Homo sapiens: one gene and its partners. The protein of the gene in region 2 purifies or fractionates together with the protein of the main gene of each other region. This does not show direct contact. Each region holds a gene or a part of one and is shown on either strand. Other genes may lie near its edges.

Region 1 (3,574 bases), on a different chromosome or scaffold from region 2:
CCTCCACTTGATGGACACAGGAAGGCAGCCCGGAAACTTACTCAGGGACTGGAAGCTCAGATCTCAGATTAACCATCTATCATAAATAACCCAGAGTAGATAATCCATGTTCAGAGAAGTGAGTTTACTGTACAGAAATTTCAGCACTTTTGATATCTTTTCACATACTGTTCTGCAACTGGCTATCCCTGTTCTTGGATGATCTTAATGTTATTATTATAGGTTGTCAAAATCTGTCACCAGTAAATGCTTTGTTCTTCAGTTTCCAATTTGCATGGGGTGTGTGAGGAGGACTTCAGGGTATAGGCTGGCTTTTCTATCTTGATTTTTTGCCCTCTGGCCTTTGACAGTGCTTCATGCTGGGCTGTTTTTCTCCATAATTATATTTTTTAAGCCACTGTATTGAGATATGATTGACATACAAAAAGCTGTGCATACATAATAATTTAATCATATTTTAAGTGATGATTTTATCCAAAGCTTGAATGTGCAATGACCAAAATAAAGTTAAAGGAAAGGTGGGTTTGGGAAGCACAGTCACTGTATTGTCGCTCCTCTTTCAGGTCGGAGTTCAGGTTTTCACCAAGAGACCTTTGGATGAACAGCAGAAGAACAGTTTTAATCCAGACGACATTATCAATTGCCTTAAAAAATACCCTAAAGCCCTTGTGAAGTATCTGGAACATCTTGTGATAGACAAGAGACTGCAGGTGAGCACTGCAGAAGTTAGACTAAAGAGTGTGGGCTGGAGAGACGGAATTGAACTAGAACACTTTTTGGCATGTGATTCTGTGTAATGTCTGTTCCCTGGGTGATCCATCCGTACTTGTTGATGGTCTGATGGCGGCCTTGAGGCTTGCGGAAAGAGACCTGGAGCAATAGGTAGCTTTATTTTTTTCTCCGTCCGTCTCACACCCACTCAGCTTTTATTTTTCCTCTCTTTTCCTTCTTTGTTATTATCCTTAAAGGAAATAAAGGGAGCTATACCTTTTTGTAGGTTATCTAAATTCTGTGGCCCTTACTTCTTGAAATAAGAGGTGACATTTTGTTCTATTCCCCATAGATGGTAAACTCATCTCAGTATCATGGTTTCTGAGAGGGTTTCGATCCAGCAAGTGAGCATCTGCCCAGCTCATGTCAGTGCAGCCGCGGTCTCCAAGCCCTGGCTGACAGGGGAGAGCTTTGACTTTCCCACTTGAAAACACTGTCTGTCTGCTTGGCTCCCCCTGTTTCCTGCAGAAAGAAGAGTATCACACCCACTTAGCTGTGCTGTACCTGGAAGAGGTGCTGCTGCAGAGGGCCTCCGCCAGTGGCAAGGGTGCAGAGGCCACCGAGACGCAGGCCAAGCTGCGGCGGCTGCTCCAGAAATCTGATTTATACCGAGTCCACTTTCTTCTCGGTGAGGATGATCTCAGTATTGTCTCCCTTTGGAAAAAACTCATATCAAGCGGGTGGGAGGAAGCAGAGAGAAGGGCTTTGGCACAGCTGCTGGTTGATTGCACAGGGTGATTCTTTGAGCCTCTTTTTTTAAAAAGATTTTTTTAAATGAAGACAGGGTGTCGCTTTGTCACCCAGGCTGGTCTCAAACTCATGGCCTCAAGTGATCTTCCTGCTTCTGCCTCCTAAGGTGCTGGGATTATAGGCGTGAGCCACCACACTCAGCCCTTGAGCCTCTTTTGACAGAGTCAGCCTCCTTGCAGGGAGAAATAAGGCTTCTCGTGCCTCTAGAGATGGACCGTGCCTCTAGATGGACGGTGCCCTTTGATTGATGATGTTGGTGCTGCCCTGGTAGACTTTAGACGTCTGTGTGTCTCTTGACACACAGTGTCTTTATTCAATGTCAAAGCACTGAGTCATAGTTCCCTCTGACGGCTTCAGTCTCTGATCAAGGCTTTGCAGTAGGCACTGCCCCCAGCGACCCATTCCCGAGCTGCTCAAGGCTCAGGTCCCTCGAGCTCTAAGCAAGAAGGTTATGCAGGTGTCTTGGAGGGCATTTGGGTTTCTGTTCCTCAGGGGTACAGAGGCCACAGTTTCTGTATTGTGTAAAGTTCCACAGCGCAGCATGGTGCTTGCAACTGGTAGAATTAACTAGTTTCTTGCCACATTAAGAATTTCTGCATTTATACTCACTGGGGTTAGTGATGTGTTTTTCTTTAATGGCCTTTAATACCATTTTTTGACCAATAACAAAGCATATCTAACACACGTGTTGTCTCCATAAAGCACATCACAACCTTCCAGAGCTTAGGAGCGCTAGGCAGCACTTCAGCACTACACTGAAATCACCAACAAGAAGCACCAAAATGCAAAAAAGCATGGCAATAAATAGCCCGTGAAAAGGAAACGTGTAGCTAGTACGACAGCTGAAGCAAGGAAGGAGGGCGCTCCTTCTTTGGCCTCAGCTCTGCATCAGGCTCTGTGCTTGTCGTAAATGACCTTGAAGCTGCTGCGAGTGTTGATTGGGAGGTTACAAATAAATTTCAGCGAGTAGATGACTTTGTAAATACAGAATCCACAAATAATGAGGATTGACTAGATATGCCCAGCATAGGTTGAAACGCTGAGGCTGCCTTATGACACAGTTTCCACAACAACCCTGTGAAGTGAGGCCTGTTTTTCCTCCATTTTTACAGAAGAGTGCACTGAAGCCCAGAGAGGTTACCCCGCTTGCCACAGGTCACACAGCCCACGAGCAGTAGAGCCAGAACACAGGTGTGGGTTGGTATTTCATGAAACCAGCAAACACTAGTTCTGGCTTGTACCTGCACCTACATTAGGACTTTCTGTGGCGATCCGCTGTGCAATCTCTGTTCACTCACAGCCACCGTCCCTGACTGATCAGTGCCAGGGTGTCCCAGCTATTGAATTTTTACTCACTCCTGACTTATTCTTTTTGCTTTACAAATCTCCTTATAAAACTCTCAGGCCAGCCACAAGTGTGTGGTTCAATGTTTGCATTCCGCCAGCTTTTCTGAGTATGTAGAGTGTGTCACTGTGCATTGAGGATACAAAGATGGATGAGACTTGGTCCTGGTCCTCAGAGACTCAGAGTTTAATTGGAATGCAGTTAAGGGCAGGTACAGTTCTAGAAGGGCCGAGGAACCCACGAGCTGTGCCTTGGGGTGGAGGGGTCAGAGGCAGCCTCCCGGAAGAGGCCCTATATGAGCAGTCATTAGGTATAAGCCTGGGCTTGCAGGTAGCACAGGGGAGCTTTCAGGCAATGGGGGTATCCCCCGCAGCACTGTGGGAGGAGCACTGGAAATCCAAACACTGATTTTGTATCCCTTCTTAGTTAGATGACTTGGGGAAATGTCAGTCTAGGGAAGTTGTAAAAACGATTCCAGCCCAACCTATCCACTCGGGGTGGCTGTGGGAGTCAAATATAAATGAGATGATAGATGTGGAAGTGTAAATCACCACAGTGATCTTTTCTTAACTGTCTTTGTACCTCACCCAGGGTCTTAACTATGGCAGCCACTTAGTAATTATTTGTTGGCCTTCCACTGTGAGGATGAAGGCGTTGCGTATTGTGGCTTCTGTGTCTAGTGCTATAAGGGATGTACCTTGCAGGGCC
Region 2 (2,467 bases):
TCAGTGCAGTTCAGACAGGTCAGTGCTTGGTGTGGTTAAGTCGTTCTCAGACCCAAAACCAGGGATCTGAGTCACTGTGTGTCCATGGCTCCGCTCAAAAGTCACACCTCATGACAGCGCCCACCACGGGTGTGTCCCCACCCCAGGGGCCCCATGTCATCCCCTCCTCAGGTGTCACCCCCTCCCCGAGTGTGTCCCCAACCCGGGGGCCCCCATGTCACCCCGAGTGTGTCCCCACCCCAGGGGGCCCCGTGTCACCCCCTCCCCAGGTGTGCCCCCACCCCTGCTGCCCTGTGTCACCCCCTCCCGGAGTGTGTCCTCACCCCAATGGCCCCTGTGTCACCCCCCCCCGAGTGTGTCCCCACCCCAGGGGCCCCCATGTCACCCCACTCCAGGTGTGTCCCCACCCCAGGGGCCCCCATGTCACCCCACTCCAGGTGTGTCCCCACCCCCGCTGTGAAGGGGTGGCCTGCCCCTCCACACCTGTGGGTATTTCTAGTTGGGTGGGACGAGAGACTGAGAAAAGAAGTAAGACACAAAGTATAGAGAAACAACAGTGGGCCCAGGGGACCGGCGCTCAGCATACCAAGGACCTGCACTGGCACCGGCCTCTGAGTTCCCTCAGTTTTTATTATTATTTTCATTATTTCAGCAAAAAGGAATGTAGTAGGAGAGCAGGGTGATAATAAGGAGGAGGTCAGCAAAAACGTGTGAGCAAAAGAATCTATGTCGTAATTAAGTTCAAGGGAAGGTACTATGCCTGGACGTGCACGTAGGCCAGATTTATGTTTCTCTCCACCCAAACATCTCAGCAGAGTAAAGAATAACAAGGCAGCATTGCCGCAAACATGTCTCGCCTCCCGCCACAAGGCGGCTTTTCTCCTGTCTCAGAGTTGAACAAATGTACAATCGGGTTTTACACCGCGACATTCAGTTCCCAGCGGCGAGCAGGAGACAGTGGACTTCTCTCTCTCAACTGCAAGAGGCTTTCGTCTTTTACTAACCCATGTCAGCACAGACCCTTTACGGGTGTCGGGCTGGGGGACGGTCAGGTCTTTCTCATTCCACGAGGCCATATTTCAGACTATCACATGGGGAGAAACCGTGGACAATACCCGGCTTTCAAGGGCAGAGGTCCCTGCGGCTTTCCGCAGTGCATTGTGCCTCTGGTTTATTGAGACTAGAGAATAGCGATGACTTTTACCAAGCATACTGCTTGTAAACATTTTGTTAACAAGGCACGTCCTGCACAGCCCTAGATCCCTTAAACCTTGATTTCATACAACACATGTTTTTGTGAGCTCCAGGTTGGGGCAAAGTGGCTGGGGCAAAGCTACACATTAACATCATCTCAGCAAAGCAATTATTTAAAGTACAGGTCTTTTTCAAAACGGAGTCTCATGTCTTCCCTTTCTACATAGACACAGTGACAGTCTGATCTCTCTTTTCCCTACACCGCTGCCCCGTATCACCCCCTCCCGGAGTGTGTCCCCACCCCAGTGGTCCCTGTGTCACCCCCTCCCCGAGTGTGTCCCCACCCCAGGGGCCCCCATGTCACCCCACTCCAGGTGTGCCCCCACCCCTGCTGCCCCGTGTCTCCCCCTCCCGGAGTGTGTCCCCACCCCAATGGTCCCCGTGTCACCCCACCCCAGCTGCCCCCAGGTCACCCCCACCCAGGTTTGTCTCCATCCCCTTTCTCCTTCTGCCCCTGGTGTGTCCAGGCCCTTCTCTGCCCAGGGTAGGGGTTTGCCTGGGTTGTAGGGGTTGGGTACCCAGCATGAGTGCCGTACAGGAGCCTGCCTCCCGGGGGCGTCTCAGGAATGGACGGCCTCCTGCCGAGTGGGCAGATATGGTGACTTCCACTCCCCACATTCGTCTCTGCCTGCTCTGCAACCACCTAAGTGCTCTCTGCACACTGCAGGCAGTGCCTTACTGGAGCCTTGTCCAGGGACATGAATTTGATATTGCGGCCAGCTTTTGGAAACAGGCAGGGAAGGTGCTGGGCCAACATTTTTAATGACTTACTTCTAACTCTAAAGCACAGAGTGGCTGCCACTGCTTTGTGTCTGAATTTTTATTGTAAGACTCAGCCGCTGGGCGGCATGATGACCAACCTTAAGGCCTGTGGCAGTGGAGAAGGGCCCAGGGTGCTGGGTGTCCTGAGGCCTGGGATTGGGCAGGGCACACAGGAGCCCACTGGTGTCAGTGGGCGGTGCTGAGGGCACAAGCTCCCAACATCTCCAGCTCCACAGACACCCAGGGGCTTCCCAAGAACAGCCCATTCTGATAAGGCCAGCAGAGGCTGGGGACCAACGCCTCCCTCGCCCGTCCTGTGCAGGTCTCGCACTTGCTCCTACTGAACTGATCGGCCCCATCCTGCATGGCCGTTCACCATTCGCTGGGTCTTTGTCCTCGCCCAATCTTGTGACTCCAGTCCTGGGTCGCATGGCGTCTGTGGCCACACATC
Region 3 (3,574 bases), about 90 Mb from region 2:
CTTCTTTTCTTTATAAAATATGCAGTCTTGGGTATTTCTTCGTAGCAATACAAGAATGACTTAATATACACTTGCTTCCTAGATAACTGTTTGAAATGTCACTACTGCTATAGTATTCCCTACTGATTTTGTGTTAAATTTCTAGTGGACAACCCTTAATGTAATACTCTTAAAAGGCTCACAACATTTAAAGCGCCTCAAATGATACTACACTTTAAACTTAAAAATTTAAAACAAGAATTCTAAAGAAAGATTGCTGAAATAGACAACTCAATTCCGTTCCTGGGAGAGCCCATAACACCGAGTACTAGATATGAGTGAAGGATCCATATAGGTACTATTTTTTTCTATGATCGATCTCCATAACCACTTGTTTCCCCCTAACATACACTTCTACAAGGCAGAAGAGCCCACCAGTACTTGGAAACTGTGTCTCTACTATTTCCTGGTGAATCACAGACTGTTCCTTCATATAGGTAAAACATAGACTTAAATTATTTCTGTGGCTTACAGTTTTCTATTTTCATCACTGTGACATGTAATTGAGTGATAATTACCTTAACAAATCAAAATTCCAAAATTTAAATCTCTCAGTCAAGAAGTTAGAAAATTCAAATTGTATTCATTCAATTTGTTTAAGGAAATATTCAGAAGAAAATTAACTTTCATACTTACAATGATACCAAGTTAAGAAACATAATACACAAGGATAAATGGGTCTATCTGCACAATACTTATTCCTTCTAAACTCAAAGACAGGACTCTTAAAAAAGGAATTAGGCTTATATTGAGTCAGCTTGTATTAAAATATAGAATGTCAAAATTGATGAAATGTTAGGTAATGGAAAAATGTGCCACTCTATTGCTAATTGTATTTCAATTTTTGTTTCAGAAACTAGTAAAATTATAAAGGGAAGATTTAAGAAATCCACTCTTGAGGGTTAACAGATACTAGGAATAAAAACAAATTTACCAAACTTTAAAATTCTAATAAAATAAATATTTTATTAACGAAAGTCTGGAAAATGTGTGCACTAAAAAGTGACTATAAATGTTAAATTAAAAAACCTTCAAAGAACACATATCACACATTCAATTTTTAAAACTTTATATAAAAGCTCTATTATAAATACAAAGCTAAACTATCTGAGTACTAACAACACAGTTCATACAAAGAAACTTAACAGTAGTAAAATACAGATATATAAGATGCTTATTTTTGGTCCTTTAGGATAAAAGAACTAAGTTGGTTTTTTTCACATGGCTCCAGGCACAAAAATAGAATATAAGATGGTAACTGCAACATTCTTAGTGTTTATCCTTGTAATTCTTTAAATGTCACCAGTCATAATAGCAATGAACTCCTCTTGGTTTACTGTGGTAAGAAAGAAAATGAAATAGTCAGAAATATAAACATTTTATTTTTTCAGAATCCACGACTACCATTTTACACTAAGTATTTAAAAAATTTTACATTATGCAAAATTATTACATTAAGACATGGCTTTTTGCTTTTACTTCTTTGTTAGGAAGTGGAACATGTTTATTAAATGTAACTTCTTGGATGCAAAAATACATATAATGTGATAAACATTACAAATTAGTATTCTATAATATTAACTGGGGAAAAGATAATGTTACCAAAAAAGTCAATCACAGTCATATTTGTACATACTTGCTAAAACATTTTAAATGCTTGACATTTCAAGGTTCTTTAAACAACCCTCTTTATAATCTTTATTCTACTAGTTCATTTAGCAAATCCTTCCTTTACAAGTAAGCTTGAACATATCATGCATGTAAATTAGATTTCTAAAGAATGAAAATATAATAAAATTATAAAAAGAAGTTAAATTATTATTTTTTGAACTTTTATATACTTAAAAGCCTATGTTAAAGAATAATTAAAACCAGGTCACCATACCTCAAAGGTATCAATAAAAATGGCAATTTGAAAAGATTACAGATGTAATCTTAATCACCAAAGTAATCCAGTAACTATATAGATGTAAAGGCAGAAAATAATCATGGATAAGGACTAATTTTTAGTTTGCCAAAATTATAAATATAGTAAGAATCTCCAATTTATAAAACATAATGTTTAAGACAGCAACCTAGAAATAAGAAATCAGATAATCTTATAGAATATAATTTTGAAAACCCGACATATGCGCACGTATCAATTAAGAAAAATGTTCAGAAGATACTTCTGGTAAGTATTTAGCATTTAGCCCTAAGACTTAATACATACCTAAACAATGCATAAATTATGAATGATAATTTTGATAATGCCAAAAGAAAACTACACTGAGACTTAAGACCTGGTCTCTAGTCACAGCTCTGCACAGAACAGCTCTGCATCTCATTTCCTTCATCTGAAAACACTGAACTATGAGATGATGTTTTAGATTGTTTAACTCTTATTTACCATAGAAGGTATTATATGAAAATACTCCATTGAATCAAACATTTTTAAGTGGCTAGTGAATGCCAACACCACAATAAGTGTTGCGTAATATATCAAAACAGACACCAGGCTTCCTATTCTGGAATACATTAAAACCGAAATGAGAAAGATATTATATGATATTATAAAATTATTGTTAACTTTCTTAAGTGTAACATTGGTATCATAGCTTTATGAAAGATATATCCTTGTTCTTAGTAGATGGATATGCTAAAATATTAAAGGATCAAGTTTTTGTTTTATTATTAAAATTTAATTAATTAATTAATTAATTTAGAGACCGGGTTATGAGACTGGCTAATCGTTGTATTTTTGGTAGAGATTAGGTTTCACCATGTTGCCAAGGCTGGTCTTGAACTCCTGGGCTCAAGCAATCCACCTGCCTCAGCCTCCCAAAGTGCTGGGATTACAGGCATGGGCCATGGTGCCTGGCCTAAAGACTGAGTTCTTGATATATGAAATTTATTTTCAAATGATTGAGAAAAAAATATACACACGACAGGTAAAGCAAATGCGGTAAAATACTAATTACTAAATCTAGGCAGAAGGTACAATGGTGTTCATTGTACTAGTCTGACAATTTTTCTGTTTGAGAATATTCATAATGAACAGTTAGAAAAAATTAACCAATTAAAAAATGTTGAGGAGATAAAACATGGTCATAGGGAATGAAAAGAATATATACTGCACTGGTTCTAGAAACCACATAGAAAACCGGTTTTGATAACTATGTTAGTCAGTTTTTATACTTGAAACAGAACAAATGTTTTATAACACAAAATACTATTTATTATTAAAACAAAGACCAAATCAGTGTTGAAAAAAAATCCTTCACAATGGTAAAAATTATTACTAATAAGAAAAATTTAGGTAAAGGTAAATCATTACTTGGGCTCTAAAATAAAAATACAGAATTTGGAAAGGAAGTAGAAAGAGAGCTGGGGTGGGAGAATACCATCAGAAATACAGTCAAAGAAAGAATAGTGTATGCCTCACAGAAATAAGCTATGAGTTAGGAAAAATGCACCCTCCAGAAGCTGACAGGGAACTATGAAGCCATGCAATCAGTATTTAACATCTACAAAACACTATGACAAACATGGTAAG
Region 4 (3,574 bases), on a different chromosome or scaffold from region 2:
ATCTTAATAAATCATAATGACACATTCATAAGACAGAACTATGAAATGTATAGTTCAGAAAGTAACTCTTTTTTTTTTTTTTTGAGACACCGTCTCGCTCTGTTGCCCAGGATAGAGTGCACTGGCGTGATCTTGGCTCACTGCAACCTCTGCCTCCCAGGTTCGAGCAATTCTCCTGCCTCAGTCTCCCGAGTAGCTGAGATTACAGGCACCCGCCATCATGCCCAGCTAATTTTTGTATTTTTAGTAGAGATGGTGTTTTCTCACATTGGCCAGGCTGGTCTCGAACTCCTGACCTCAGGTGATCCACCTGCCTAGGCCTCCCAAAATGGTGGGATTACAGGCATGAGCCACCATGCCCAGCCCAGAAATTAACTCTTAAACTAGCATTAAAATACTCAGTGTACAAACCACATAAAACTGCATGAAATCTAAGAATTATTGTTACCAGTCTGTCAAAAGTTTTGGTAAACTTTAAAAGAAACAAAGACAGTAAAATGTCAGAAAATATGAAATACACAATATTTGTCACATCACATAGATCACTGGTAGATAAATAACTATAGTATGATATGGCCAACTAAATAATTTTAAAACTGCTAAATAATACAACTTATTCCCAGAAATAATTCCCAATTAGGTAATCACGCTTCATTAATCATAACTCCCAAGTTCACAAAAGTATGGCAAAGCTAACGCATTCATGCTCTGCTGACAGTGTAAACTCGCTCAAGTCTTTGGGGAGGCAAAAATCTGGCAACTGTAGAAACATTTATATCCTTTGACTAGTAATTCATTTGAGATTAGTATCCTATAGAAACAATTCATAAAAGAAAAAATGCACAGAGATGTTCAATTCAATGTCAAAATAGGCATAAACTGAAAACTATTATTTTCCTGTCAGGCATTTAGAACAAATTTAATACTTATTTTTCAACTATCAAGTAACAATCAAATATCATAAAGGTTATACAACATGGAAAAATACAATGCTATAAAAGTAAAATAAAACTTATTTGATATAATTCTGTAAAAACTGCAATATATATGCACAAACTAGAAGAAAACAAAAATAATGAACACAATTATTTGTTAGTATGGCAAAACAAGTTGATATATAAAAAAATTGTTCCGACACGTTTAATAAATAAAAGCAGGCTGGGTGCAGTGGCTCATGCCTGTAATCCCAGCACTTTGGGAGGCCGAGGTGGGCGGATCACAAGGTCAGAAGATCGAGACCATCCTAGCTAACACGGTGAAACCCCGTCTCTACTAAAAATATTAAAAAATTTGCCGGGCGTGGTGGTGGGTGCCTGTAGTCCCAGCTACTTGGGAGGCTGAGGCAGGAGAATGGCATGAACCTGGGAGGCGGAGCTTGCAGTGAGCCAAGATCGTGCCACTGCACTCCAGCCTGGGCAACAGAGCGAGACTCTGTCTCAAAAAATAAATAAATAAATAAATAAATAAATAAATAAATAAATAAATAAATGCAAGCAAACATACTAGCCCGAACAGTAAAATTAGAAAAACCAAAGCTATAACATTGGAGCAAAGCTAAAAAAATTAGAATGACAAAGGTTTCGGTTCTGCTAGCAAACTAAAGAATATTTAGGGAATATATTTATAAACTTATGGTCAATATTATAGATAAAAATACTATATATTACAAAAATAACCAAAGTCCATATGGTATTTTGCCAATTACAATTATTTCTCCCTGTCTTTCCCTACCAGTCTTGTTGAGAATCTCTGTGGTAATAAGCCACTACTACTGTTGGAAGTATTTTGTATTCCTTGGGTAGAAAGGCAAAAAAGTGGCTGAGAACCACTATCTTTGTTAAGATACAGAATGCAAATATGGGTGAATAGGCAAAGCCCCCAAAACATTGTTTACATCTCTTCTTTACTGTCAATGTCAAAATGCCAAGGAAAAAAAATCAATAAACATACTTAAAAAATGAAAAATGATGCTGGGTGGTGGCTCATGCCTGTAATTCCAACACTTTGGGAGGCCGAGGCAGGTTCGAGACCAGCCTGGCCAACATGGTGAAACCCCGTTTCTATTAAAAATACAAAAATTAGCCAGGTGTGGTGGCGGGCACCTGTAATCCCAGCTACTCAGGAGGCTGAGGCAGGAGAATCACTTGAACCTGGGAGGCAGAGGTTACAATGAGCTGAGAGCGGCACTGCACTCCAGCCTGGGTGACATAGCAACTCCGTCTCAAAAAAAAAAAAAAGAAAAGTGAAAATGAATACACTAGTTTCAAGGTTGCCAACAAGAATAAATTGAAAAGATATATATAATGAATACATATTTATTTATAATTATATAATATGTAACATTAAATACACCTGTAACACAATGTGTAAAAATAGGCCCGGGTGCAGTGGCTCATGCCTGTAATGCCTTAAAAGTGAAAATGAATACACCAGTTTCAAGGTTGTCAAAAAGTCTCAACAAATTGAAAAGACACATATAATGAATACATATTTATTTATATTTATATAATATGTAACATTAAATATATTTATATTATAAAATAATGTGTAAAAATAGGCCTAGTGTAGTGGCTCACGCCTGTAATCCCAACACTTTGAGAGGCCAAGGCGAGTGGATCACTCGAGGCCAGGAAGTCGAGATCAGCCTGGCCAACATGGTGAAACCCCATCTCTACTAAAAATACAAAAATCAGCAGGGAATGGTGGTGCACCCCTGTAATCCTAGTTATTCGGGAGGCTCAGACAGGAGAACCGCTTGAATCCGGGAGGTGGAGATTGCAGTGAGCCAAGACTGCACCACTGCACTCCAGCGTGGAAGCCAGAGGGAGACTCTGTCTCAAAAATAAAATAAGATAAAATACAATTACTGATGGCCTTAAAGATCCACAAATTTCCTTGATTTTCTATGAAACTATCTTATACCTTACTATATAACCTTTTAACCTTGAGAAACATAACAAAGGAAATAAAATGTTCTCTGGGGTTTTCCTTCAAATAGAAATAGGTGAATACTATCCTACTACTTCAACATTAAAACTTACATAAAGAGAACATGCAGCATTTTAGACAAGTTCTTAGCCTTGAGGAACAGGTGTGAGTATGAGATAAACACAGAAATACTAAATTAAACTCCAGATTATAACAATACTAAGTGAATTTTTTGGTTTTTGTTTTGTTTTGAGATGCAGTCTCATTCTGTTGCCCAGGCTAGAGTGCAGTGGCACGATCGGCTCTCACTGCAGCCTCCTGCTCCTAGGTGCTAGCGATTCTCCTGCCTCAGCCTCCCCAGTAGCTGGGATTGCAGGCGCCTACCAACGTGGTTTCACCATGTTGGCCAGGCTGGTCTTGAACTCCTGACCTCAGCTGATCCGCCTGCCTCAGCCTCCCAAAGTGCTGGGATTACAGGCGTGAGCTACCACACCTGGCTAAGGTGGGATTTTTTTTAGGGTACATTTTAATTATACAAAATAACCCAACAGGTGCTATATGCATTGACTTTTATAAAAATCAGTTGAATATTAATTATTGCTATTCACTGAATTTTTAACGAGAGGTTCTGATGAAAATCTGGTTT

Evidence for each region.
Region 1: the proteins of CCDC127 (region 2) and TGFBRAP1 purify together in Homo sapiens (co-immunoprecipitation; one large-scale study listed by IntAct). This does not show direct contact.
Region 3: the proteins of CCDC127 (region 2) and CETN3 purify together in Homo sapiens (co-immunoprecipitation; 2 studies listed by BioGRID and IntAct, with this or other methods). This does not show direct contact.
Region 4: the proteins of CCDC127 (region 2) and ATF2 purify together in Homo sapiens (co-immunoprecipitation; one large-scale study listed by IntAct). This does not show direct contact.

Annotation. Positions count from the first base shown.
Region 1 is NC_000002.12:105,270,680-105,274,253, reverse strand, and holds part of TGFBRAP1 (transforming growth factor-beta receptor-associated protein 1), read left to right. Parts: intron 1-563; coding exon 564-710; intron 711-1,239; coding exon 1,240-1,399; intron 1,400-3,574. UniProt on the Homo sapiens protein: Plays a role in the TGF-beta/activin signaling pathway. It associates with inactive heteromeric TGF-beta and activin receptor complexes, mainly through the type II receptor, and is released upon activation of signaling.
Region 2 is NC_000005.10:196,327-198,793, forward strand, and holds the end of CCDC127 (coiled-coil domain-containing protein 127), read right to left. Parts: 3' UTR 542-2,467; downstream 1-541.
Region 3 is NC_000005.10:90,392,733-90,396,306, forward strand, and holds part of CETN3 (centrin-3), read right to left. Parts: intron 1,376-3,574; coding exon 1,332-1,375; 3' UTR 1-1,331. UniProt on the Homo sapiens protein: Plays a fundamental role in microtubule-organizing center structure and function. As a component of the TREX-2 complex, involved in the export of mRNAs to the cytoplasm through the nuclear pores.
Region 4 is NC_000002.12:175,161,696-175,165,269, forward strand, and holds part of ATF2 (cyclic AMP-dependent transcription factor ATF-2), read right to left. Parts: intron 1-3,574. UniProt on the Homo sapiens protein: Transcriptional activator which regulates the transcription of various genes, including those involved in anti-apoptosis, cell growth, and DNA damage response.